4 linked regions of the Homo sapiens genome follow. The protein of the gene in region 1 purifies or fractionates together with the protein of each later gene. This does not show direct contact. Each region holds a gene or a part of one and is shown in the gene's direction. Other genes may lie near its edges.

Evidence for each region.
Region 2: the proteins of NOX5 (region 1) and GUCY1B1 purify together in Homo sapiens (affinity purification with mass spectrometry, with the first as the bait; 2 studies listed by BioGRID). This does not show direct contact.
Region 3: the proteins of NOX5 (region 1) and MTHFR purify together in Homo sapiens (affinity purification with mass spectrometry, with the first as the bait; 2 studies listed by BioGRID). This does not show direct contact.
Region 4: the proteins of NOX5 (region 1) and TTC4 purify together in Homo sapiens (affinity purification with mass spectrometry, with the first as the bait; 2 studies listed by BioGRID). This does not show direct contact.

Annotation. Positions count from the first base shown.
Region 1 is NC_000015.10:69,031,666-69,038,713, forward strand, and holds part of NOX5 (NADPH oxidase 5), read left to right. Parts: coding exon 1-147; intron 148-1,377; coding exon 1,378-1,612; intron 1,613-3,688; coding exon 3,689-3,842; intron 3,843-4,092; coding exon 4,093-4,271; intron 4,272-5,362; coding exon 5,363-5,545; intron 5,546-7,048. Other genes in the region: SPESP1-NOX5 readthrough, read left to right, coding at 1-147, 1,378-1,612, 3,689-3,842, 4,093-4,271, 5,363-5,545. UniProt on the Homo sapiens protein: Calcium-dependent NADPH oxidase that catalyzes the generation of superoxide from molecular oxygen utilizing NADPH as an electron donor. May play a role in cell growth and apoptosis.
Region 2 is NC_000004.12:155,790,010-155,797,057, forward strand, and holds part of GUCY1B1 (guanylate cyclase soluble subunit beta-1), read left to right. Parts: intron 1-3,846; coding exon 3,847-4,077; intron 4,078-5,331; coding exon 5,332-5,448; intron 5,449-6,367; coding exon 6,368-6,501; intron 6,502-7,048. UniProt on the Homo sapiens protein: Mediates responses to nitric oxide (NO) by catalyzing the biosynthesis of the signaling molecule cGMP.
Region 3 is NC_000001.11:11,802,965-11,810,284, reverse strand, and holds the start of MTHFR (methylenetetrahydrofolate reductase (NADPH)), read left to right. Parts: upstream 1-4,320; 5' UTR 4,321-4,397; exon of another isoform or gene 4,398-4,938; intron 4,939-6,747; exon of another isoform or gene 6,748-6,770; coding exon of another isoform or gene 6,771-6,880; intron 6,881-7,155; coding exon of another isoform or gene 7,156-7,168; coding exon 7,169-7,320. Other genes in the region: CLCN6 (H(+)/Cl(-) exchange transporter 6), read right to left, coding at 3,095-3,154, 3,936-4,022. UniProt on the Homo sapiens protein: Catalyzes the conversion of 5,10-methylenetetrahydrofolate to 5-methyltetrahydrofolate, a cosubstrate for homocysteine remethylation to methionine. Represents a key regulatory connection between the folate and methionine cycles.
Region 4 is NC_000001.11:54,739,861-54,743,157, forward strand, and holds the end of TTC4 (tetratricopeptide repeat protein 4), read left to right. Parts: intron 1-1,550; coding exon 1,551-1,653; 3' UTR 1,654-2,797; downstream 2,798-3,297.

The DNA of each region.
Region 1 (7,048 bases):
CATCTCGCTGCCTGACGAGAAGCTGGACCAGCTGACGCTGGCGCTCTTCGAATCGGCCGACGCGGACGGCAACGGGGCCATCACCTTCGAGGAGCTCCGGGACGAGCTGCAGCGCTTCCCCGGAGTCATGGAGAACCTGACCATCAGGTACGGCCGGGTCTCGGGCATTGGCACTGTCCACGGCGGCGTTAGACTCCTGGTCGGAAGTGTGGCAGGAACTCACCGCGGATCCACTCTGCCCTACCCCGCCCTGCCCCGCCCCTCCCCAGTTTAGCCCACTCTTGAGTGTACTGCAGGGCAGCTGTCTTCATTGCCTCCACTTCCTGCAGTGTCTCTGCAGAATCAACTCAAGGTCTGAGGCACCTACTGTGTGCTGAGCACTTTTGCATATACCAGTGCATTTTATAGCAATACTCGTTTTACAAAAGGAAATTACTTCGCCTGAAGTAAGTTGCCTAGGATCACACAAATAATTAACAAAGGTATTTATGCAATAAATGTTTGAGCAGCTTCTATGCAGCAGGCACTGTTCTGATTAATGCAGTGAATGAGGTCTCCACCCTGCTGGGGCTCCATTCCAGACGAAGAGACATGTCATTTACACCAATAAACACACAAACTAGAGAAGCACAAAATTAATAAGTGCTGTGGAGAAAATAAGAGTGTAACAGCAAGACCCAAGTCTGTCCGACTCCAGGCTCTGAATAGAGCCGGTTTTGTAGTTCATTCTTCCTGTGTATTAACTTTTTTTTTTTTTTTTTCTGAGACGGAGTCTCACTCTGTCGCCCAGGCTGGGGTGCAGTGGTATGATCTCGGCTCACCGCAACCTCCGCCTCCCGGGTTCAAGCGATTCTCCTGACTCATCCTCCCGAGTAGCTGGTATTATAGGTGCCAGCCACCACGCCCAGCTAGTTTTTGTATTTTTAGTAGAGACGGGGTTTCGCCATCTTGGCCAGGCTGGTCTCGAACTCCTGACCTCAGGTGATCCGCCCGCCTTGGGTTCACAAAGTGTTGGGATTACAGACGTGAGCCACTGCACTGGGCACCTACCTGCCTATTAACTTTCTTGGGGCTTACTTACCAAAACATATTTCAGATTCTTCCATCCTTTTCGACTGCTTCTTTTAAAATTGGAAAGTAAAGAGAAGTAATAAAAATAGCGGTGGTTGTGGCATTAGGCAGACCGGAGTCCCCTTTCAGCTCCGCGGAGCTGTGCGACTGTGACCAAGCCACTTGACCTCTCTGTTTCCTGGTGTGAAGAAAGCCGGCCTGCTTGCCAGACTTGGTCGGCCATAGCTTGAAGGGGGTCTTTAAGTTAAGACACAGGTGGTCCCCGCCCCACCGCTCGCCTCTGAGCGGAACCCGCCTCTCTCGCAGCGCTGCCCACTGGCTGACGGCCCCCGCCCCCCGCCCACGCCCGCGCCGGCCGCGCCAGCTGACCCGCGCCTACTGGCACAACCACCGCAGCCAGCTGTTCTGCCTGGCCACCTATGCAGGCCTCCACGTGCTGCTCTTCGGGCTGGCGGCCAGCGCGCACCGGGACCTCGGCGCCAGCGTCATGGTGGCCAAGGGCTGCGGCCAGTGCCTCAACTTCGACTGCAGCTTCATCGCGGTAGGCTCTGCCAGCACACGGTGCTCTGAAAATGTTAATTAGGAGCCGAGGTGGGCTCCTCCTAGACAGAGCGACCCACAGAGGACACCTGGAATGCCAGGGCAGGGTGGCACCTTAGAAATCAGCTGGGCCAACGCTCAGAGTTGGAGGACGCCGCCCAGAGAGGGACAGTAGCTTGTCCACAGTCACACAGCCAGTAAATAATAACATAACTGGCATTTTTGTGCACTATGCACCAGGCACGGTGCTGAGCACGCTCCATTTGATCTTCACAACTCCCCTATAGTGGACCCCTGTGCAGGAGCACCTTCAAGAGGAAACCCTAGAAGAGGCTTTGAATACCAGACCATGGAGTTGGAATGTGGTTCTCTGGCTCATGGATGAGGCCTCTAAGAGGTGTTTTTTTTTTTCTTTCTTTTTTTTCTTTTTTTTTTTTTTTTGAGACGGAATTTTGCTCTTGTTGCCCAGCTGGAATGGCACGATCTCAGCTCACTGCAACTTTTGCCTCCCGGGTTCAAGCGATCCTCCTGCCTCAGCCTCCCCGTAGCTGGAATTACAGGCAACCGCCACCATGCCCAGCTAATTTTTATATTTTTAGTAGAGATGGGGTTTCACCATTTTGGCCAGGCTGGTCTCGAACTCCTGACCTCAGGTGATCCACCCTCCTCGGCCTCCCAAAGTGCTGGGATTATGGGCATGAGCCACCACGCCTGACCTCTAAGAGTTTTTGATCACACAACTCCTACCATTAAAACAAAAGCCCTCTTATGCTTATATGCATGCTCTATTATCATTAGCTAATAGACTTATGGCACAAAGTAACTACAGGGGAAGATTCATCATTGATGAGCAGGGATGCCCATCTCTAGCTCAGATACGCTTCTGGATATGAGCTTCTCATTAGAGTGGGTTTTATAGGTTTTATTTTAAATTTATTTTTATTATTTTTAATTATTAATCTTAATTTTTGTGGGCACATAGTAGGTGTATATATTTATGGGGTACATGGGATGTTTTGATACATGGGATGTTTCGATACATGCAATGTGTAATAATCACATCTTGCAAAATGGGGTACCCATCCCTAAAGTGGGTTTTGTCTTAATGGCTCAACGAGCTAACAAAGACTTCATTCCAGGAGTGGGAGACGTGTGATTCATTTTCTTGGTCACTTGCTCATGTATTACTAACACAACTGTTAATCTGTGGTTTCTCTGCTGGGAAACTTTTAAAGCTACTTGTCCTTCCTGTGAGGGGTAGTTAGCTTAGTTTTGGTAAAGTCAAATACTGTAACCTACAAGTCCACATCCTTGGCAAACATAAATATACTGAAAGCAAATGAGCAATGAGAGAACCCTGGTTAACCACTCTGGATTTGGCTCCTGCAAGGCACCTCGAGAACTAACACAACACGTGCCCATCTGACATATGGACTAAATGAGGGCACCAAGTCAACAGAGATATTTTATTTATTTATTTATTTATTTGAGACATGGTCTTTGTCACCCAGGCTGGAGTGCAGTGGACTGATCATAGGTTGCTGTAACCTCAAACGCCTGGGCTCAAGCAATCCTGGGCTCAAGCAGTCCTCCTGCCTCAGCCCCCTAAGTAGCTAGGATTACAGGTGTGTGCCACCATGCCCAGCTAATTAAACAATTTTTTTTTTCTATAGAGACAGGGGTCTCGCTGTGTTGCCCAGGCTGGTCTCAAACTCCTAGGCTCCAGTGATCCTACTGTCTCAGCCTTCCAAAGTGCTGAGATTAGTGGAGTGAGCCACTGCGCCTGGCCCATATATTAAATATTAGTAAAAGCATAGATGTTTCTCATGTGTTTAGACAAAAATTAATACAAATAGACATTCTGTAACTTTCTCTTCCCGCCACAATTCTGGAGATCCTCCTCTAGAGACCCCAGGTATGAATCCAGGGAAGCAACAAGGCATGGGGGCAGGGGACTTTGGTGAGTGTCCTGTTCAGAAAGCACAGCTAGCTCAGGAGGATGCAGGGAGGTGGCTGGGAAAAGAGGACAAGGCAGACAGAGAGTGAGGCAGGGCTCTCTCCCACTCTGCCTGGCCAGGTGCTGATGCTCAGACGCTGCCTCACCTGGCTGCGGGCCACGTGGCTGGCTCAAGTCCTACCACTGGACCAGAACATCCAGTTCCACCAGCTTATGGGCTACGTGGTAGTGGGGCTGTCCCTCGTGCACACCGTGGCTCACACTGTGAACTTTGGTGAGTGATCTGGGGCAGGGTTGGGTCGGGGAGAAGCTTGAGCAGCCTCAAGCCCAGAATGCAGGGCCCAGCCCCTGTGTGTACTGCCTGCCCAAAGGGCAGAGAAGGGGTGCCCTGGATAAGCCAACGCTCTGGACAAAAGTTTCTGCCCGTGCTAGTATCTGATGGTGCAGGGTGGGGATCCCAATGGGAAGGTGGAGTGGGAAGAGCTGGTCTTGCAGTCACTCAACCTTTCTGAGCTTGTTTCCAGTACTCCAGGCTCAGGCGGAGGCCAGCCCTTTCCAGTTCTGGGAGCTGCTGCTCACCACGAGGCCTGGCATTGGCTGGGTACACGGTTCGGCCTCCCCGACAGGTGTCGCTCTGCTGCTGCTGCTCCTCCTCATGTTCATCTGCTCCAGTTCCTGCATCCGCAGGAGTGGCCACTTTGAGGTGCCCCAGTTGCTGCCCTTTTGCTTCCCCCAAGGCCAGGGTCCTACTTTCATTTCTTTCTGTGTCCCCTCTGATTTACTCCAGAGCCCAGGAAGGTCCCAAGCTGGTCTGCATATTATTTGCATGTGATTTGGGACCTGCTGCTGTGTTCTGCCACTGGACTGTAGTTTATGTCTGCCAAGTGTAGATGTTTTGCTGCGGAAGAGTCTGCCTTTTTGCTGGCTTATCCCTTTAGCCTATTTGGATTAAGTTGGGCTTAAAACAGTACAGGGAGGGGAAGGAACATAGGCTCAGCAGGTTTTGAATCCCCACTCCACTGCTTACTGGTCGCTCAACCTTTCCAAGCCTCAGTTCTCTCATCTGTAAAATGGAGGTGTAATTCTCTATGTTATTTTAGGAATTATAGGCGATAATACATGTAAAACCACTAACTACATCCTAGCACATAGGTGCTCTGAAAATGTTAGTTCCATCTTTGCTTCTGTCTCTCCAGCCTCCTCAAGATGCAGAAAGTCACAGAGGACTTGGTTTGGAGAGCTTGACTATCTTGTGGCCTGACCACATCAGAAATAGACATATACTGAGCACGTACCTACTCTGGGCCAGCAACAAGCCTTTGAAGTAGGAATCAGAATCCTCATTTGACCCATGAGGAATTTCACACTCAGAAAAGTAATGAAATTGCCCAAGATCACAAAGCTTCAGAAGGTGCTAAAATTGTCTTCTGCTATTTCTTCTCCACTCCCAGGAAGCCATTGCTGTCTTTCCTTTCTTCCTTCTGAGAATGGGTCGGGGGTAGCGATACTGATGCTCATGATCCCTGTGGGGGCAGTCCACTCTGCCCAGAACCTCCCCAGGCAGATATTTCAGATGTTTGCCTCTGGTATCAGGAATCTTCCCTTACAGCCTCCTTTGGCCAAGCACCCAGAAAAAGAAGCTTCCCAGCCCCAACATCTTACCCAACTCCATCCCCGGGAGAGAGTCAAGGCTCTGAGCACTGCCCTGGCTTTGAGGATAACCCTGAGTCCTGGCTCTGTTCCACCCCCCAGGCCTTGAGCTCTGGAAGTTGACTGCCCCCCCTACCCCCATAGGTGTTCTATTGGACTCACCTGTCCTACCTCCTCGTGTGGCTTCTGCTCATCTTTCATGGGCCCAACTTCTGGAAGTGGCTGCTGGTGCCTGGAATCTTGTTTTTCCTGGAGAAGGCCATCGGACTGGCAGTGTCCCGCATGGCAGCCGTGTGCATCATGGAAGTCAACCTCCTCCCCTCCAAGGTACAAAGGTGGGGGATGGGGAGGTGCTTTTCCAACTCACCCCAAGGGACAGTTTGTGGGGTGGAGCAGCTGGATACCCTGTCAGACCCCCAAGGAAATAGAGAATAGTGTAGCTGCAGCCCCATTGCTATGGAGGAGAGAAGCAAAATGCAAGACCCAGTCCAGCCCTCCAGGAGGGAAGCTTTAGGAAGATGAATGGCAGGGCAGGCAATAAACCTCTAAAATCCGATTTTGGGGAGAACAGTCTCCTTCAGCTCAGTAAGCGTTTATTAGTGCCTACAGGGTGCCAGGCCCTGAACTAGGTTACAGAGAAATAGAGAAGGTTCTGCACTGTCCTGCTTTCTAGGGGAGCCAGCCCTTTCATTACAGTGCAGGGCTGTGTTGCTGGAGGTATTAAACCCTTTGTCTTTGGGAGGTCAGAAAAAGCTTCAGAATAAGGGAGAAGATGCCATATCAGGGTTTTGAGGGATGAATAAGAGTTTGTTGGATAGAGAAGACAAGGAAGGGTATTGCTGGCAGGAGGAACAGCACAGTAAAGACACAGAATTGTGAAAGGGTATACTGTGCTTGGGGGACCACAGGTAATTTGGCATAGCTGGAGCCAAGTTGCCAGGAGGAAGCCAGAGAGGTGAGGAAGGCCTGATTATGAAGGGCCTCCTGAGCTGGGAGACCAACCCCGCAGGCCATGGGGAACCCCTGAGCACGCTGGGAGGAGATGGTGGTATTAAGCTGTGACCATTAATATTCTAGTTAGATTTCTTTAGTTGCTCTGTGGAAGGTAGCTTGGAGGGGGCTTGTGGGGAGGTTCTTGCAAATACAAAGATGAGAGTTCATGAGGGCCTTGACACTGAGGCAGTGGCCATGGGATGGAGGCAGGTGCACATCACAGAAAGACTCAAGAAGCAACTGGTTATGTTTTGCGGCAACAGAGAGGATGGAGTCTAGGACGTCTCCCAGGTGTCTGAGAAAAGGAAGGCAGTTCTAGGCGGGCTCAGCTCTGGACACACTGCGTTAGAGGACCTGGGAGGCTGAAGAATGAGGCTGTGCTCTGTGTCTAGGCTCTGGCATCCAACAGCCTCAGCTGCATTCAGATCCCACGGTTTCTTACCCAGTGGCCTTGGGAAGTTATTTAACCTCTCTGAGCCTCCTCTTCTTGTCCCTAAAGTAGAGAGAAAATAATATCCACGTCATACAACTGCTGTGAGGCCTAGAGATAACACAGTGCTCCAAAGCAATTGTCTGGAAAGATGTTGTTATCCAAGGAGAGATGCCCATTGATGGTTAGAATGCTAGCCACACTCTGGCTGAAGTTCCAAGAAAGGGCTGGAGTAGCCAGGGAGGCATCACAGGGATACGTCACAGAGGGTCCACTAAAAAGCAGTGCTTACACCCTGAGAGGCAGGGTAAAACCAGGGGCCCCAATTCAGACACAGCCTGGCTGCCCCCTCTAGGATTGTTGCCCACTTCCAGATTGGCAGGTTGGCTGCTGAGGTGGGCCACCAC
Region 2 (7,048 bases), on another chromosome or scaffold:
CTTCCCTGGAAGTATATATAAGCCAAAACAGTGGAAAGACCAGCAATCTTCTATATTTGGCCTGGGAGTGCATTATACAGGATATTTTTTTCCTTCTGGCAGCAGATTTTTCTTTCTAATTATATAGTGTTCAAGGCTACAAGAAATTTACTTTGCATTCCCTGTGAACACACACCAGCTGGGAAGCAGAAGGATATGTGACGACTGAGCTGTGGGTTTCAGCATGCAAAATATCCATAATATGGATAGTCAAATTCTAAGGCAATATAAAATTAAGTATTATTTTATAGATCATTTTCTCTTTGTCGATTTTTGTCTGCCCCGAAATATAGTTGGAATGTCTAATTTTGTGAATGAAAGTGTTTGTTTTTGTTTTTGTTTTTAATCAAGTTACTTGGTGAAAGAAGCCAGGTCTGGTACTTTAAAAATTGTGCTGTTATTGATAATACACACTCTTAGTTTTGAGTGATGATTTCAAGGTACTGATAGGGCAACCGTACAACAAAGAGAACCACTGTTTCTCTTTACCTCTGGCCCTTACGGTTTCTCCCAGTCAGGCTGCTTTTTATGTGTTCAGCATGTTCATACCCAAGAGTCAATTCTCAGTAGCTTTAAACTTGAGGCCAAAGTGGGGAGATAGATACCTTTTTCCAACCTTTCTTTGTTTATAGAAAACCTATTAGACAGTTCTTTCTTATAGATCATAGATATATTGTAACACACTTGGGAGGTCTAAAACCCTTAAGTGGAGTATTATCCAAAATTAAAATAGTAACATTTAAATAAATTAGAAAGATATTCCACATATTTAATCTAGTAAAGTTATGTTAGAGTTCATGGTTTTCTTTCTTTCAGAAGTTGGTGTTAGTTCTTACGTGGCACCTTTTGGTGATTTCCAGGTGCATCGTTAGTTTTCTACAACCATTAGTAATGGCGGAAACCACGATTACTGTTGCACCAACCTAATAGAAAGTAGGACTGTGTATAACATGGCATTATCAAATGCAGACATTTAAAAATTAAAGCCTTGGGTAAAGTATCACAATTCATCCATGATTGGGAATCTCACTGGTATTCAATCAAAATAGTATATACCTCACATTTCCAATCTTTTTTTTTTTTTGAGACAGAGTCTCACTCTGTCTCCCAGGCTGGAGTGCAGTGGCGCGATCTCCGCTCACTGCAAGCTCCACCTCCCGGGTTCACGCCATTCTCCTGCCTCAGCCTCCCAAGTAGCTGGGACTACAGGCCCCCACCACCACGCCCGGCTAATTTTTTTGTATTTTTAGTAGAGACGGGGTTTCACCGTGTTAGCCAGGATGGTCTCTCTCTCCTGACCTCATGATCCGCCCGGCTCGGCCTTCCAAAGTGCTGGGATTACAGGCGTGAGCCACCGCGCCCGGCCAGTCTTTTGTTCTTGACATTAAACTAACAGTATCGCCTGGGCGCAGTGGCTCACGCCTGTAATCCTAGCACTTTGGGAGGCCAAGGCGGGGGGATCACGAGGTCAGGAGATTGAGACCATCCTGGCTAACACGGTGAAACCCCGTCTCTACTAAAAATACTAAAAAAATAGCCAGGCGTGGTGGCGGGCGCCTATAATCCCAGCTACTCGGGAGGCTGAGGCAGAAGAATCGCTTGAACCCGGGAGGCACAGGTTGCAGTGAGCCGAAATTTCGCCACTGCACTCCAGTCTGGTTGACAGGGTGAGACTCCATTATCAAAAAAATAGAGAAAAAAAAAAAAATAAAGCAAAACAAAACGAAAAACAAAAAAAAACACAGCATCTATACTGAGTGAACGTATATGCATATTGTATGCACTGTTGGTTTTATTTTTATTTAACCAGACTGAGAAAGAGGTAGGTTCGTAGAAACTTCAGAAAGAAACACAAATTAGGACACACTTGGAAACTACTATTACTGTGGTATTAGAATCTTTGGCATGGGAGATTGATGGCTTTAGCAAACTGTATGAAATTCAAGTATTTACTTAATTATATGGTTCACTTTATAAAATATTTAAATTCTCTTCTGACCATTTATTCAAGTGCTTCAATATGAACTTCTGAAATATTTGCATTTTATAGGTATATTTTATGTGTTTAATTTTTTCAAAAGCACTGTTTTGACTTCTCGAGGGATTCTCACATTAAGTTTATCAGGTCCAGAGATACCAGACAATTTGAACCACATGGTTAATACTAGATCATGTCATAAAGTGATATACCAATGAGAAGTTAAAAATATGATTAGAAAAGCTATTTGTTTTGCCAGTTTGATCAAAGCAAAAAAATTAGAATTGAATAATTAATTCATAAGTTTAGGATACATATAATTCAATTTCTCTAGTTAAATAGAAACAGAGTAGAACATCAAAAGTAGGCCTGTCATTTAAGGTTGACTCTCTTGCCTTGTCTATGAGTTAGGGAAATCAACCTTAATGTGGTAAAATTTTCAAATTATAAATAAGGATACTAATATTTAACCAGTATAGTAAGTTATTCTGACAGTGAGGTAGTAACATCCCAGTTTTGCTACAAAATATATCTAAAAGAATATATACAATAGCATCTATAGTTATTGTGATTTGTTTTTAAAAATTGCAGAGAATGCGACAGGGTACTCCTGAAAAAAAAAAAAGAAAAGAAAAATGAACAACATTTTGTTTTTATTTAGCTGTAACTGAAGAAATGTTGTCCCAAACTTTTTCTGTTTTGGGTCTGGTTGCCGTTGAGATCGAGTTTTCCCTTTGTAAGAGGGCTCATTGCTTGCAATTTCTTAACCCAAAAAGAAGAGGAAAATCTATACTTTAATAATGTATTTGCCTGTGAATAATACTTTAGAAAAGTAGGATTTTTTTACATTATAGATATTAGCTCACAATTACGATTACTTCTTTAGAATGAATTCCTAGATTTGCAATTAAATCAAAGAATCCACAAAATTTTAAGGAATTTTTATGCCTATTGTCAATTTATCCTTCAGAAAGATTAATCAAAATACCCCCTCATCAGTGGTATTTGAGATGCCTCTTTTTCAGTACCTTACCCAATTTAATATTGTAACTTTTTTTTCTTTTTTTGAGACAGAGTCTCGTTCTGTCGCCCAGGCTGGAATGCAATGGCATGATCTCGTCTCACTACAACCTCTGCCTCCCCAGGTTCAAGCAATTCTACTGCCTCAGCTTCCCGAGTAGCTGGGATTATAGGCACCCACCACTGCGCCTGGCTAATTTTTGTATTTTTAGTAGAGATGGGGTTTTGCCATGTTGGCCAGGCTGGTTTCAAACTCCTGACCTCAGGTGACCTGTCCGCCCCACCCTCCCAAAGTGCTAGGATTACAGGCGTGAGCCACTGCACCTGGCCTGGTATTGTAACTTTATGTATTTGATAGTTGATGGTTAAAAATGACATTGCATTTATTTTTGAATATGAATCTCTATCATTTTATTTCCCATTGTTTTAAAATAGTATTGTAATCTTATTTGATAGTGCTAGCTTGCTTTTAGCTGGCTTTCAGGTTGTTCACTATACAAGTGTGCTTGGCTAAGAAGGCAGAGCCCACAAGTGCTTTTTTTTTCTAATTCTACCAAAGAGACCATATAGGATACTGGGGAACTGATACCAGATTTGTAATTTTACAATGATTATTCAATCTTCAAATTTTATAGATCAAAGTCCAGAAATATTTTCCTATTTTAGACATATGGAGTATTTGCATATATGTTTTGAATTTTTGTAATTAATCTTCTAAATGCAGTATTCATAACTCATTTTTTATATTTAGGTATTTTTATTAAACTGAAATGAAGACAATTCATGCCATTTCCCCCTTTGATATCCAGGTTATTCAGCAAAGAAATGAAGAATGTGATCATACTCAATTTTTAATTGAAGAAAAAGAGTCAAAAGAAGAGGATTTTTATGAAGATCTTGACAGATTTGAAGAAAATGGTACCCAGGAATCACGCATCAGCCCATATACATTCTGCAAAGCTTTTCCTTTTCATATAATATTTGACCGGGACCTAGTGGTCACTCAGTGTGGCAATGCTATATACAGAGTTCTCCCCCAGGTAAAATGACAGCATACTTCCTTGGGGCCTGAGACAAAAGCCCATAGAAATACTATTGTTACAGGCAGCCATCCATTCATTTAACCCTCTGACTATGTATTAGGTAATATGCAGTTTATTGTAAGTTACACAAATTGTTTAATTGTGAACTAAGTGTATTTGAGCATACCACAACTTTCCCTAGGACAACTATTTTTTTATAATAATCACATACAGAAACAGTAGGAATGTTATGTAAGAATAGTATACTTGTTACAGTGAAAAAAAATGGGTAACTTTTTAGTAACAGTCACCTTTCACATGTTTATTTATTCACTGAATAAATATTCATTGGATATCTACCATCTGTAAATAGCTTTAAAAATCAACTATTGATGGTGTTAAGGGAAAAGGGGGGATTTTAAAAAGAACTAAAACACAAAATGATAGAGATGATGATGGATTCAGTAGAAAAAGCATCAAAGGAAGCAGTTGGGATGATGATGAGAAACTGCTGTTGACTTCTATGACAGATCCATTGGTAAAATCCTTTATGCTTACTCTTTTTTTCTTAAATACTAACTTTTGGAGTTGTATATGGCATACGTTTAGAGATACTTTTTGCTTGTAATTAAAGAGACTTGAAAATTCAGGATTAGCCCAGTTGGATCAGGTGAAATGGAAGCAGAGTAGTGTGCTGTCCTGGCTCTGGTATTGACTCTACCTGTCCCTTACTGTATGACCTTGAACTTATTACTTCACTTCTCTCAGCCTGTTTCTCTTTGTTCTGGCATGAGAATAGAAAGCATATGAAAAATACTTAGTTCATTGTAAGCAATCAATCAGTGTTACCTATTGTTTTCACTTTTAGCCCTCTAGATAAATATTAAGAGAGGGTTTGCTCATGTTTTTGGTATTTTAATTTCATTTCAAGCCATACACATTTAACATAACACTGTACATTTTAAAAGATAAATTTTCATTTTTTCTCCTTCTGAAAATGCATTGTAAATTTATGCTAGCTTACATTTGAATATTAGTCATCTGAATCCATATCAGATTTCATGTTCTTGTAACTATTTAATGTCCATTTAATCACTGAGTTGTATAGATTGAGATTTGAGTTGATAGTTCAGCTAAGTTTCCCTTGAATTATAATAATTATAATTTTCTAGTTTTAAATATAACTGAGCTGATTTAATCAAGCGATTAATATCAAAGTATAAAAACTATTTTAACTGATGTGATACTCTTTGCTCTCTATCTATATTTTAGCTCCAGCCTGGGAATTGCAGCCTTCTGTCTGTCTTCTCGCTGGTTCGTCCTCATATTGATATTAGTTTCCATGGGATCCTTTCTCACATCAATACTGTTTTTGTATTGAGAAGCAAGGTAATCAAGATATTATTTCATTAAATGTGAGAAAGGTATGTCACAAATTAGAAGTATTCAGGGGGGAAAATTATCACATTCTCTGAGAAAGTATAGAGAGATAAAACCCAGACCTCAAAGGAAGATCTATTTAAAAGGCAATAACATTGATTTTTGGTTTGCCTGAGGAGCAGTGGAACTCTATCAACTGATTAAAATTAACAGAGGTAAATTTTAGAGACTGTCTTTCTGAGACGGCCTTGTTTCACATCAAAAAACCAACATCTTTTACTCCCTGTACAGCTACAGTGCCTTATTTTAGAAATCAGAACTAAAAAGGATTTTTTTTTTTGGAACTTCACTCAAAACCACTTATTTATTCTTTCTTAAATTGTCTATTGTTCTTAGTAGCGTTTTTGTGGGTGAATAAAAGTGATGAAATATTCACACAGTTGATAATTTAGATAGTGCTGGGATCTCACGGTTTCTGTTCTTGGGATAGATACAGCAAAAGTCATTTTCCTAGAGTACCCATTGAATCCTTTCTGTATTTGGAACTGACTGTTTGCAGCTGCTCTATGAATACAGGGTGGGAGAATGGGGAGGCTTGGCTTATTCTTTGAGAGTCTGGTAATGTATGTTGGAACCATACCGGAAAATCAGGGGGATAAAAAAGATTCACAAAAGCTTGAAATAATTATGTGAAGAGTAGCACAGTTACTGTCCTGAATTCAGACGGGACAGTCACTTTTCTGCAGTGTTGCAAGGCAGCCACTAGGCTTATTACAGGCAGAACTCTGACAGAAGGCCCTCTCCTGTTCTAATGATGCACTTATTCTGCTTTGTGGTTTGGTGGGAAATGAGATATGCGTGTCCTTGTTGCTGAATTCTTAGGTAGGGAGAAAGGCATTCATTAATGGTTGTATCTTGCCTTTTCAAGGAAGGATTGTTGGATGTGGAGAAATTAGAATGTGAGGATGAACTGACTGGGACTGAGATCAGCTGCTTACGTCTCAAGGGTCAAATGATCTACTTACCTGAAGCAGATAGCATACTTTTTCTATGTTCACCAAGGTAATCATTTTTAGATTAATTATAGTGGCTATCAGTACCTATCTTTAGCTAACAAAGGAATGCCACAATATTTTATTCCATTAAATTTACATATTCTCTGAGGTGTAATTAGATTTTACAGCCCTTGTTGTGTATTACTTTATAACAAGGATAATCTTATTTAATATTTGCTAATAAACTCAGAAGAAATCACATACTCTATGTTATTTGCCATGTCTTAATACATTTGTGGAGTGTTTATGCCATTACGCCATGGGACAAATAATCTGCATTAAGCTAATTCTATAGTTTTGGACCTTCAAAATAGGCATTATGTAGAAAAGTGATTTTTTAAAGCAGCTAATAGGATGGCATAATAAATACATTGGTATATTTGACATCAAAAATTATCTTTTCTATAGTATGTTAGCAAAAAATCTAAAAGGTCTCTTTCTGGGTTTGAACTATTTTAAATTAAAAATATTTACCTACTCTAATCCAAATACACTGTTCCAAATATATTATTCAATTAAAATGTATGTAAAATGTGATTTTTAATAAACGTCAG
Region 3 (7,320 bases), on another chromosome or scaffold:
TATAATGAGAATGGATGTCAAAATGGGATTCTAACATTTTGTAAGACCCTAAATTTATCAAATAAAGAGTCAAATATGTGCAATGAACTCTTCCTGAGACAGGAAGAAGGGGCACTTTTTAGAAAGATATTCAACAGAAGGGTTTTCTAGTTGACTGACTATCAAGGTAGAGAAAACCCTATAACTCCATTCATTAAAATATGACTATTAATACCTTACTAAATATCCTTCTACATCCTTACCCACGTTTTTATACACATGCTTTTAACACGTGTTTTAAATAACAAAAATGAGATTCCACTAAATCAACTATTTTAACCTGTCCCACTCACTCCCCTCTTTATTATACTTTTTGTGTCAAGTTGATTTATTTATTGAATAAATAAAATCCAGACTTTTCTGTTTAAGTGCCTGAATTTGTTCTTACACAAAGCAAGTGCTCTCAAGAAGCTCATTCTTGAAGATGGTTGAGAAATATCAATGACCAATATCAAAAGAACATTAACCCATGAAATGTACATGAATATGGCCACGCGTGGTGGCTCACGCTTGTAATCCCAGTACTTTGGGAGGCTGAGGTGGGTGGATCACCTGAGGTCAGGAGTTCAAGACCAGCCTGACCAACATGGTGAAACCCCATCTCTACTAAAAATACAAAACTTAGCCAGGCATGGTGGTGTATGCATGTAGTCCCAGCTACTTGGGAGGCTGAGGTAGGAGAACAGCTTGAACTCAGAGGCGGGGGTGGAGGTCGCAGTGATCCAAGACCGTACCACTGCATTCCAGCCTGGGCGACAGAGTGAGACTCTGTCTCAAACAATGACAAGAACAACAAAAATTTACATGAATATGCATATCAGCTGAAGGCAAGCACATTACAAATGTAAGTACAATTTAGTAGAAGGGGTGAGGGAGCCTGGGTGTCAATGGGGAAGCCTTGGTGAGCTCCTAGAAGTAGGATGAAGGCTGTGAGACAGTCTCAGTCCTGGTGATACAGTCAGGATGATGTAACAGGGTTCAGTGAGGGAGTGCAAGGTGACAGAACAATATGGAGTATCTTATACTAATTCCTGCAAACTTCTCAACTATGTACAAGAAAACAAATACTTACGAAACAGAAGAAAATGGCCAGGTATAGTGGCTCATACCTGTAATCCCAGCACTCTGGGAGACCGAAGCAGTATCACCTGAGGTCAGGAGTTCGAGACCAGCCTGGCCAACATGGTGAAACCCTATCTCTACTAAAAATACAAAAATTAGCCGGGCATGGTGGTGGGCGCCTGTAATCCCATCTACTCGGGAGGCTGGGGCAGAAGAACCGCTTGAACCTAGGGTGGGGTGGAGGTTGCAGTGAGCTGAGATCGAGCCATTGCACTCCAACCTGGGCACTAAGAGTGAGACTCCATCTCAAATTTAAAAAAAAGAAAAAAAAAGAAATAGAACAAAACACAGCAGTGGATACAGTGCTTTTTGGTTCATTCAAAGCAGTCCCATCAGAGTAGCATATTAAACTATACAAACGGCTCCAAATGGCAAAATCTAGACAGTAGAAAATCCCAGGTCCTAATTATGTTGTCAAATAACTTACAAAAAAAAAAAAAAGATGAAGGAAGAAGCTACAGATTAAAAGAGATTTAACAGATTTATCAAACAAATAAAAAAGGACTTTTGGAACCTAATTCAAATAAAGTTAAAATACATATGACATTTACAAGAAAACTGGAAAATCTGGACAGTAGATATTTGATATCAAGAAATTCCTAATTTTTTAGATGTGGTAATAGTATTGGGTTATGCTTTTTAAAAGTCCTTATCCATTAGAGATGCATATAGAATTATGGGTGAAATAATATGATGTACAGAATTTCTTTCAAAATAACATGGGAAGGGCGGCCAGGTATGGTAGATCATGACTGTAATCCCAGAACTTTGGGAGGCTGACATGGGAGGATCGCTGGTGTCAAGGAGTTCGAGAACAGCCTGGGCAACATAGGGAGACTGTCTTTACTTTAAAACACACACACACACACACACACACACACACACACACACACACAAACACACACACACATACAATAAAAAATAATAATATGAGAAAGGAGAAGTGGATAACGAAAGCACAGACAAAAGAAGACTGGGCTTGAGCTAAATCACTGTGGAAGCTGTGTGATGAGGACAAGGGGTTTCAACAGATTATTCTGTTTTTGCATATAGTTGAAATCCTTCATAATAAAAGTTAAACAAAAAAGTGCTACAAATCCTAACGCTGACACTAAATTCTACAGCATGAAGAATTTATGGAAGAGTGAGACTCTGTCAAAAAAAAGAAAAGGTTGTGGAAAATTACCTAATGATACAAAAAGTATAATAAAGGGGGTGAGTGGGACAGGTTAAAATAGATGATTTAGTGGAATCTCATTTTTGTTACTTAAAAAAAGCATGTATCATGTATATAAAAGCATGGGTAAGGATGTAGAAAGATACTTAGTAAGGTGTTAACAGTCATCTTTTAATGAATGGAGTTATAGGCTTTTCTCTACCTTCTTTATTACGTTTAAGAATTTAATGATAAAAAGTCACGCATGTTGTTTCACCCCAGCAGTGTTGGCTTTACTAAAAACACATACTCTAAGAATCCCATACATGAAAGGTGGAACTTAATCAAGAACATGTCAGAGAGAAGCTGCTTGAGCAAGAAAATATCTGAAAAGCAAGCTCTCCTAGAAGAGAAGCAAGGCCTCCTTAACAGTTTATAAGCACACACCTGTTAGGGGCACATACTGCCTGCCAGTGCCTTTCACTCTAAGTCTCTCTGTAAGCTGTAAAAGCAAACAGTTTAATGGCAAATACATACTCTATCCAGGTTAAGGTGCCACAGATTTATAAACGTGTAAAAACACCAGACCTTGTTTTGGGGTTAAGGTGAGAAAAGGGCTTGCTAAACAGTCTCTTTCCTAGAAGGAAGTTCTCTTACCCACTCACTCCCTGGGACAGAAGGTCAAAGAGCATCTCTGGTTGGAATCATAATGCTTCGGCCTGAAGTGACCAGGCCACTCACTACTTTAGTTGCCCAAGCAGTATCAAAGGAGCTCACCTCATAGTCTTTCCTTGGAAGAATCTCATCCTCCTCCTCCTGTGTTTCTCCAAGGATGGTCTAGAAAAACAGATCCGCAGAGGGAGCCTTTTTTAGTGGTTAGGAGTGGAAGGAGGCAGAAGTATTTACTGAAATCAGTGGCTAGCTTCTAAATCATCTGGAGCCATTATCAAATAGGAACCAGCCCTCAAAAAAAACCTTTCAGGGGTGAGGGACCATGTGGGTGAGGATCTACAGCCATCAGCTGAGCTCTTCATTTCCACTGATAGTCTCCAAATAACCACCCTCCTCTTCAGGACACCTCAAAGATGTCCAACGCCAGCTGAAAAGGGGGGTAAAAATGCAGGTTCCATTTGACAGTGTGACGTATCTGAAATCAGAAAGGACTTGTCAACTCTGGGAACACAACTCAAGTTTTCCCAGGATGCTTTGCAGGGGGAAGCTGGACTGTCAGTGACCCAGAAAGGGTGAGGGATAGAGTGAGAAAGGACTGGAGAAGCTAAAACAGCAGCATGATAAGCACAAAGTCCTGTGAGGAAGCTCATTCTGAAAACGCTTGTTTCATTCCAAACTCTTTTCAGATGGAAATAAAAGGAAACATGGGTGGGATTTACTGGAGCTGGCCTGGATTCTCCCTCAGATTCCAGGAGGGGTTATGAGAAAAGACCCCAGACTTAGGCACGTGAAGCAGGGTAGACGCTTCGAGAGCCCTGGCTGCGGTCCCCAGGCCCCACCCGCTGCCACCTGCGGGCCCAGATTGGCCCGGCCCCACCCCCGGCAACGCCTCTCTCAGTCCCTTAGCAACCGCCCCCTCCCCAGGCCGACTCCGCCGGCTTCTTACCAGCTCCTCGGGGGTGCGGGTCTCACGCTCACCGCAGCAGCAGCACCACCTGCAGCAGCAGCACAGAGACCCCCTGCACCCCGCCATCTTCCTCCTTTACTGCCACTCTGGACCCCTCTACCAACCCCCTCCCAGCCAGGATCTGCGCCTCACGTGACTGGCCCCGGGACGGTCACGTGGCCCTCTCGAGCTCTGGGACTGAGACCAGGAGTGGCTGCAGACGGGTGGGGCGAGGACTCGCGTCACATGACGATAAAGGCACGGCCTCCAACGAGACCTGTGGGCACGGCCATGTTGGGGGCGGGGCTTCCGGTCACCCGCGCCGGTGGTTTCCGCCCTGTAGGCCCGCCTCTCCAGCAACCTGACACCTGCGCCGCGCCCCTTCACTGCGTTCCCCGCCCCTGCAGCGGCCACAGTGGTGCGGCCGGCGGCCGAGCGTTCTGAGTCACCCGGGACTGGAGGGTGAGTGACGGCGAGGCCGGGGTCGCCGGGAGGGAGATCCTGGAGCCGGCAAACAACCTCCCGGGGGCAAGGACGTGCTTGTGGGCGGGGAGCGCTGGAGGCCGGCCTGCCTCTCTTCTTGGGGGGGGCTGCCGCCTCCCTTGCGCACCCTTCGCGGGATTAGTGTAACTCCCAATGGCTACCACTTCCAGCGACCGCCAACCCTCAAGCGAAGACTGACTTTGGCTCCCTGCCTGGACGGAGGGGCCCCTGAGCCAGGGGTGACGATCCCGCCCCTCTGACCGGCCCAGGCCCGTGTCCTCGCCCCCATCGGTGACTCAGTGACCTGGTGACTGGATTCTCGGCCACCTGGGCGCCGAGACGGCTTCCGGCTCCTGCCTTTTAAACCTGCCTCCCCGGCGATCACCTGGAGAAGAGCGCTGGGCCCGGGGCACTGCGGTCCCTGGCGCCCACTGCGTCCCGCTGCGCACGGGGGTCCGCCGGGACCTTTCTGGGAGTCGTAGGCTTAGTATCCCAGTGCTTGGCGCAGACTAGTTGTTCAGTAAGTGGCAGAGGCTTATTTTGAGAGAGTGGCAGCACCTGGCCCTTTGGCGCTCAGTGAATGTTGGCTATCACCGTGTGCCAAACTCTGGGGATACCCCAGGCAGGACACCGGTCCTGTCTCAGGGAACTGGGGAAAGAGAAAGGAGACAGGCCTTTTCACCCACAGTTACAACCCAGGGTGCTATGGGAGTCCAGCTGATAACGGATAAATCGTGGGAGTTGGCTTACAAATATGGCACATGCGTGGCATATACTAGGAATGCAATAAGTCTTTGAAAATCAGAGGGTTTACAGGTGGTTCAGCTTCCTCCTACTCTAGGTTCTGTTCCAGCAAGCAATTAACGAGGTGCGCCCTTAAACGCTGGAGGAAAGCCAACTGGCTGCTCTTGCTGTTACTCCTCCCCCCCGCCCCCGTTCCTCACTCCCCACAGCCATCCCCACTGAGAATCTGGAGTTTGAGGTCAGAATGAAAGAGAGCAGCCCTAGAGGGAGAAAGCTTTGGCCCAGGGTTCTTAGTCTGGAATCAACTCCTTGTCTTTGGATGTATCCCCGTGTAGTCTGTGCACCTGTGTGTGTATTTCAGGGGAAGGGAGCAGTGCATTTAATCAGATTGTCAAAAGAGTCTAAGACCCCAAATGGTTAGGTACACAGGGTTAGTGGTGGACAGTCTGAAAGAAATGAACCTCACCTGGGCTTTCCTCTGTTGTGCCATGTCACCACACACCCATTCACTACTGTGTGTTTGCCCATTGCTGTGCAAGTGTTTTGTTTGTTTTTAAGTGTTTGTCTTATTTTCTTAACCAGACTGCCAGATGACCCTATGCCCTCTGTTGGCCTGTCTGTGCCCTGGTGGCTCTGATTACTTGTTTCTGTTTTTTGTTTTTGTTTTTTTTTTTGAGATGGAGTTTTGCTTTTGTCGCCCAGGCTGGAGTGCTATGGCACAATCTTGGTTCACTGCAACCTCTGCCTTCCGGGTTCAAGCGATTCTCCTGCCTCAGCCTCCAGAGTAGCTGGGATTACAGGCGCCCGCCACCAAACCTGGCTAATTTTTATATTTTTAGTAGAGTCGGGATTTCACCATGTTGGCCAGGCTGGTCTCAAACTCCTGGCCTCAGGTGATCCACCCACCTCGGCCTCCCAAAGTGCTGGGATTACAGGTGTGTTTTTTGTTTTTTTAAGAGATGGAGTCTCGCTATGTTGCCCAGGCTGGCCTTGAACTCCTGGGCTCAGGCAATCCTTCTGCCTCAGCCTTCCCAGTAGCTGGGTCACTGTGATGATTTGAATTGAATTCTGTGATGTGTAAGAAGAGCAGCCTGCAAGGCAAGCACAGATGGGGCAGCTTTTGTTCTGAGAAATTCGTGCCCTTACTGAACTTGGGTCTGGCTATTTTTGGAACATGGCCAGCATCAAGTTCTAACCCACAACACGGTCTTTTTGGAGTAGCATGAATTCAGGAGAAATCTGGCTGCATAGTCAAGCCCTCACCCCTTCCATCCTGTGCACGAACTGTTTCAAGTAACAGATGTTCCAGGCAGAGCCAGCCAGAGTGAGCTGTTCCTTCTCTGGAGGGTGATCTGGTATCCCTGAACGCCTGTTGGCCTCATCTCCACCAACCCCTGCAGTCTCTGCCCCTGAGTCCCCCTCCTTCCATCCGCCTCCCCTTACTAGAGCCTCAGCCCTCCCTCCTCGCCTGGAAGCCTTGCCCCCGCCCCCTTGTGCTGGCTGGAGCTCAAGCCTCTTCCTTTGTCGCAGCTCCGCCCAGTTGAACACACCCGCTGGGGAAGGTGCCTCTGTTCCCTCCCCACGCACTCTGGGCCTGAGCTGACAGAGATGGACCATCGAAAAGCCAGGGTCCTCCCAGCTGGGCACTACTGCCCCTCGCTAGGAATATGGGCCTCGCAGGTCGGCAGCGTGAGGTCCTCTGTGCCACCTTCCATCAGGTAGCTGTCACCGAGGAGCATGTTGCAGTGCCGGGTGGGGGCTGCCTTGCATGCAAGGAGCCTGGCAGCAGCGGAGGGCAAGGCTTTGAGTGAGGCGGCCCGGACAGCCATAGCTGAGGAGCATGGAGCCACTGGGAGGGGGCAGTGTCACCTTTTTTGGCCTTCTTCCTGTGTGGAAATACAGCGCCTCCGGCTTGAACCTGCCACTCAGGTGTCTTGATGTGTCGGGGGTGTGGCTGCCTGCCCCCTGATGCTCCCTGCCCCACCCTGTGCAGTAGGAACCCAGCCATGGTGAACGAAGCCAGAGGAAACAGCAGCCTCAACCCCTGCTTGGAGGGCAGTGCCAGCAGTGGCAGTGAGAGCTCCAAAGATAGTTCGAGATGTTCCACCCCGGGCCTGGACCCCGAGCGGCATGAGAGACTCCGGGAGAAGATGAGGCG
Region 4 (3,297 bases), on another chromosome or scaffold:
TGATTTTTAAAAATTAAAAAGATTTTAAAAGATGTACAGAATAGGCCGGGTACAGTGGCTCATACCTATAATTCCAGCATTTTGGGAGGCTAAGGCATGAGGATCACCTGAGCTCAGAAGTTAGAGATCATCCTGAGAAACACAGCGAGATCCCGTCTCTATAGAAATCTTTTTTATGGTGTTGTGCACCTGTAGTCCTCGCTATTTGGGAGGCTGAGGCAGGAAGATTGCTTGAGCCCAGCATTTCAAGGCTGCAGTGAGCTATGATCACACCACTGCACTCCAGCCTAGGTGAGAGTGAGACCCCCTCCTCCCACTACCCAAAAAAATTACAGAGTAATGTAAAGATTTGAAGTGTACTGTTCAGTGGTGAGGCCTGAAGTAGGAGGAGGTGGATTAGAGGTTTAGGAGGTAGATTGGATGGGAGCTGGTGTAGTGTTGAGTGATGTGATAGGGGTGTCCAGCTAGTCTTAATGCTTTGGCTTGGTAGGCAGGAAGGAAAGGTTTTTCCAGATCTGATTGATACCTTTGGTGGTGTTTTGCTCTGGTCCCAAATCTCTCTTCTTCTAGTTTTTGGACACATTTTTAGCTGCTCATTTTCTCAGTTGTTAGCAAATTACCCAGAATTCTTTAAAGGCCTGAGTTCTGCCCTACCCCAGAGGAGAAATCTAAATAGAAAGCAGACCGATGCTTGGAGGAAACCCGTTTCATGCTTCTCAGAAAATGTAAATGCTGTTGGAAGTTACTACCTTTAAAATTATTACCATAGGCAAGAGCCTACCCAGGACTGGTTTCTGGCAACTTCAGACCCTAAACTGGGTGGAGCCACGAAATAGGCCCTCTGTCCCAAAGCAGGCCCACTGAGTAATACAACACCCCTATCCCTGGGAGGCCAAAGCCCTCCCTGCCTCTCTAGCCTGCCTGACTCCTTTTGCTTTGTGCCCTAGCCACAGCAAACATTCTGGTTACTTGCACCTCCTGGCTTTTGCTCCCCAACCCCCATCACCACCCCTTCCCCAAATTAAAGCCAAGTTCAGACATGGCATCTTCCAGGAAGCCTTTTTTGATTCCCTTCCTCATAGAGGGAATCGTGCCTCCTTGGGATAATGCTGCGCCTCACAAATGCTTCTGCAGTTGTGCCTTGCTGTCATTAATTGGTTCCTCATCTCCCTCCCCTCCAGGACTGAATTTGAGAACAAAGATGATGGTGTGTGGGTGTTGGTTTTTTAATCTCTGTGTTTTCAGCACAGGGCCTGGCTTACCACTGAATGTTGAATGAATGAATAAAACCATGCTTTATATTTTTATTTCATATTTAGCCACAGACATGCATGATGCCAGAGGACTGGCCTAAAGGTTCTGGCTAGGTTGTAAGGATGAGAATGTCATGCTAATTTGCCAGATTTATGAACAACCACATAACTGTGCTAAACTTGCATTTTCATGTTGACTCCCATCCAGAGGCTCACCTTGCATGTTGTTAGGAAGGTGCATGGATGGTTAAGATTGTAATTAAATTAACACCCTCTCTTTTGTTGTGTTCACGGCAGGTACTTTGTAAAAGCCCTGACACCAGCATTTTTGGTCTGTGTAGGATCCTCTCCTTTTTGCAAGAATTTTCTCCGGGGGAGAAAGGTGTACCAGATACGATGACTAAGCCAGGGCCCCTGGATCTCCTCCCTTACCCTCCTCTGCTGGGAACCTAGCACACCTGAATCAGCTGGACATACTGCTGGAGTCCAGTGCTTTCTTTCCGTCACCCTGGGGATAGTCCTTCCTGGCATCGTGGTGGGGGAGGAGCCTCTGGCTTCCCTAAACTGCAGCCTCTCTGGCTGGTCTTCACTTTCCTCAGTTGATATAAAACTCTGGGTCTTGGCCATGATGTCCTTGGACTCCATCGCTAAAGGGACCATCTGCTGCAGTTACCACAGCAACTGACCTGAGCGGCACCCTGGTCTGTGGAGATGGACTCAGGATCCAGTGACATGATTCTGAACTTTTGTGGAGTTTGACACCTTAGAGAAGCTACCCCTCAAACTGCACATCTACACACAAACAAACAATGCATAGGATTCCAAGGCTTTAAAGCTGAGAGACCCTGGCCTCAAGTTATTTCATGCGCACAGAGGGAAGCCATGTGGGGTTGCTGAAGATGCCTTGAGGTGAAATGGGGGCAGGAAAGCCACATCTTGCTCTGCATTTATAAAGACCGTACAAACTCAGATCCTTGGTACCCCTAAAAAGATTGCCAATTTTCTTCATCTTTGCCATATGGAGGACTGTGACAGACTTTGGACAGTGGCCTCTTGAGTTCCTCTGCAGTTTTGACATTTAGGATTTTGTGTCTTTTAAACTGGAAAATCTTCTAGCATGTTGGGTTGTTACAGAGTATATTTTTGTCTGCAGCTGTTTGTTGCCCCATTCCTAAGAGGAGTTTATCCATCCTGACTTGTAGCTGTGTGACTTCTTGCAGTGCCCCCACCCCATCCCCCCGGGAGAGTGTACTTCCCTGCTCCCAATGCAGAGGGATATGCACAGGCATGAGCTGTCCTGCGTCTGACAGAAGCCTGAAGAGTCATGTGTGGTTGGCCTGTGCTCTTCCCTCTGCTGTGAGAACACATTTCCCACAGAGGAGCCGTTCCATGGAGCCGAGCTACAGCAGCTGGCCTGCAGCCACTGAGTGTCACAGCAATGAGAGAGCAATGTTTGCTGTAGTAAGCAGTGAGATTTAGGGGTTGGTTGTTACTATAGCAGAGCTAATACATGAGTAAACTGAAGCCAGCTGCTGTCCTTAAAAGTGGACTAATTTGAGGCTGGGTGCGGTGGCTCACGCCTGTAATCCCGACACTTTGGGAGGCGGAGGTGGGTGGATCACCTGAGGTCAGGAGTTCGAGACCAGCCTGACCAACATAGCAAACCCCGTGTCTACTAAAAATACAAAAATTAGCCAGGCGTGGTGGTAGGCATCTGTAATCCCGGCTACTCGGGAGGCTGAGGCAGGAGAATCACTTGAACCCGGGGGGCGGAGGTTGCAGTGAGCCAAGATCGTGCCATTGCACTCCAGCCTGGGCAACAAGAGCAAAACTCTGTCTCAAACACAAACCAAAAAAAAAGTAGACTAATTTAGAGTTTTGTGTAGTGTGCCTCACTGTCTTTGAAAGGAAATTGGCTGTGGAATATTTACAAAGAACCATGCAGCTTCCAGGTGCCGGTCCCTGTCTGTGGCTTGTGGCTAGGAAGCTGAAGTTCAGCCTCCTTCCTACTCCTGGTTTTGGCCACTTAAGGACCTGAGGACCA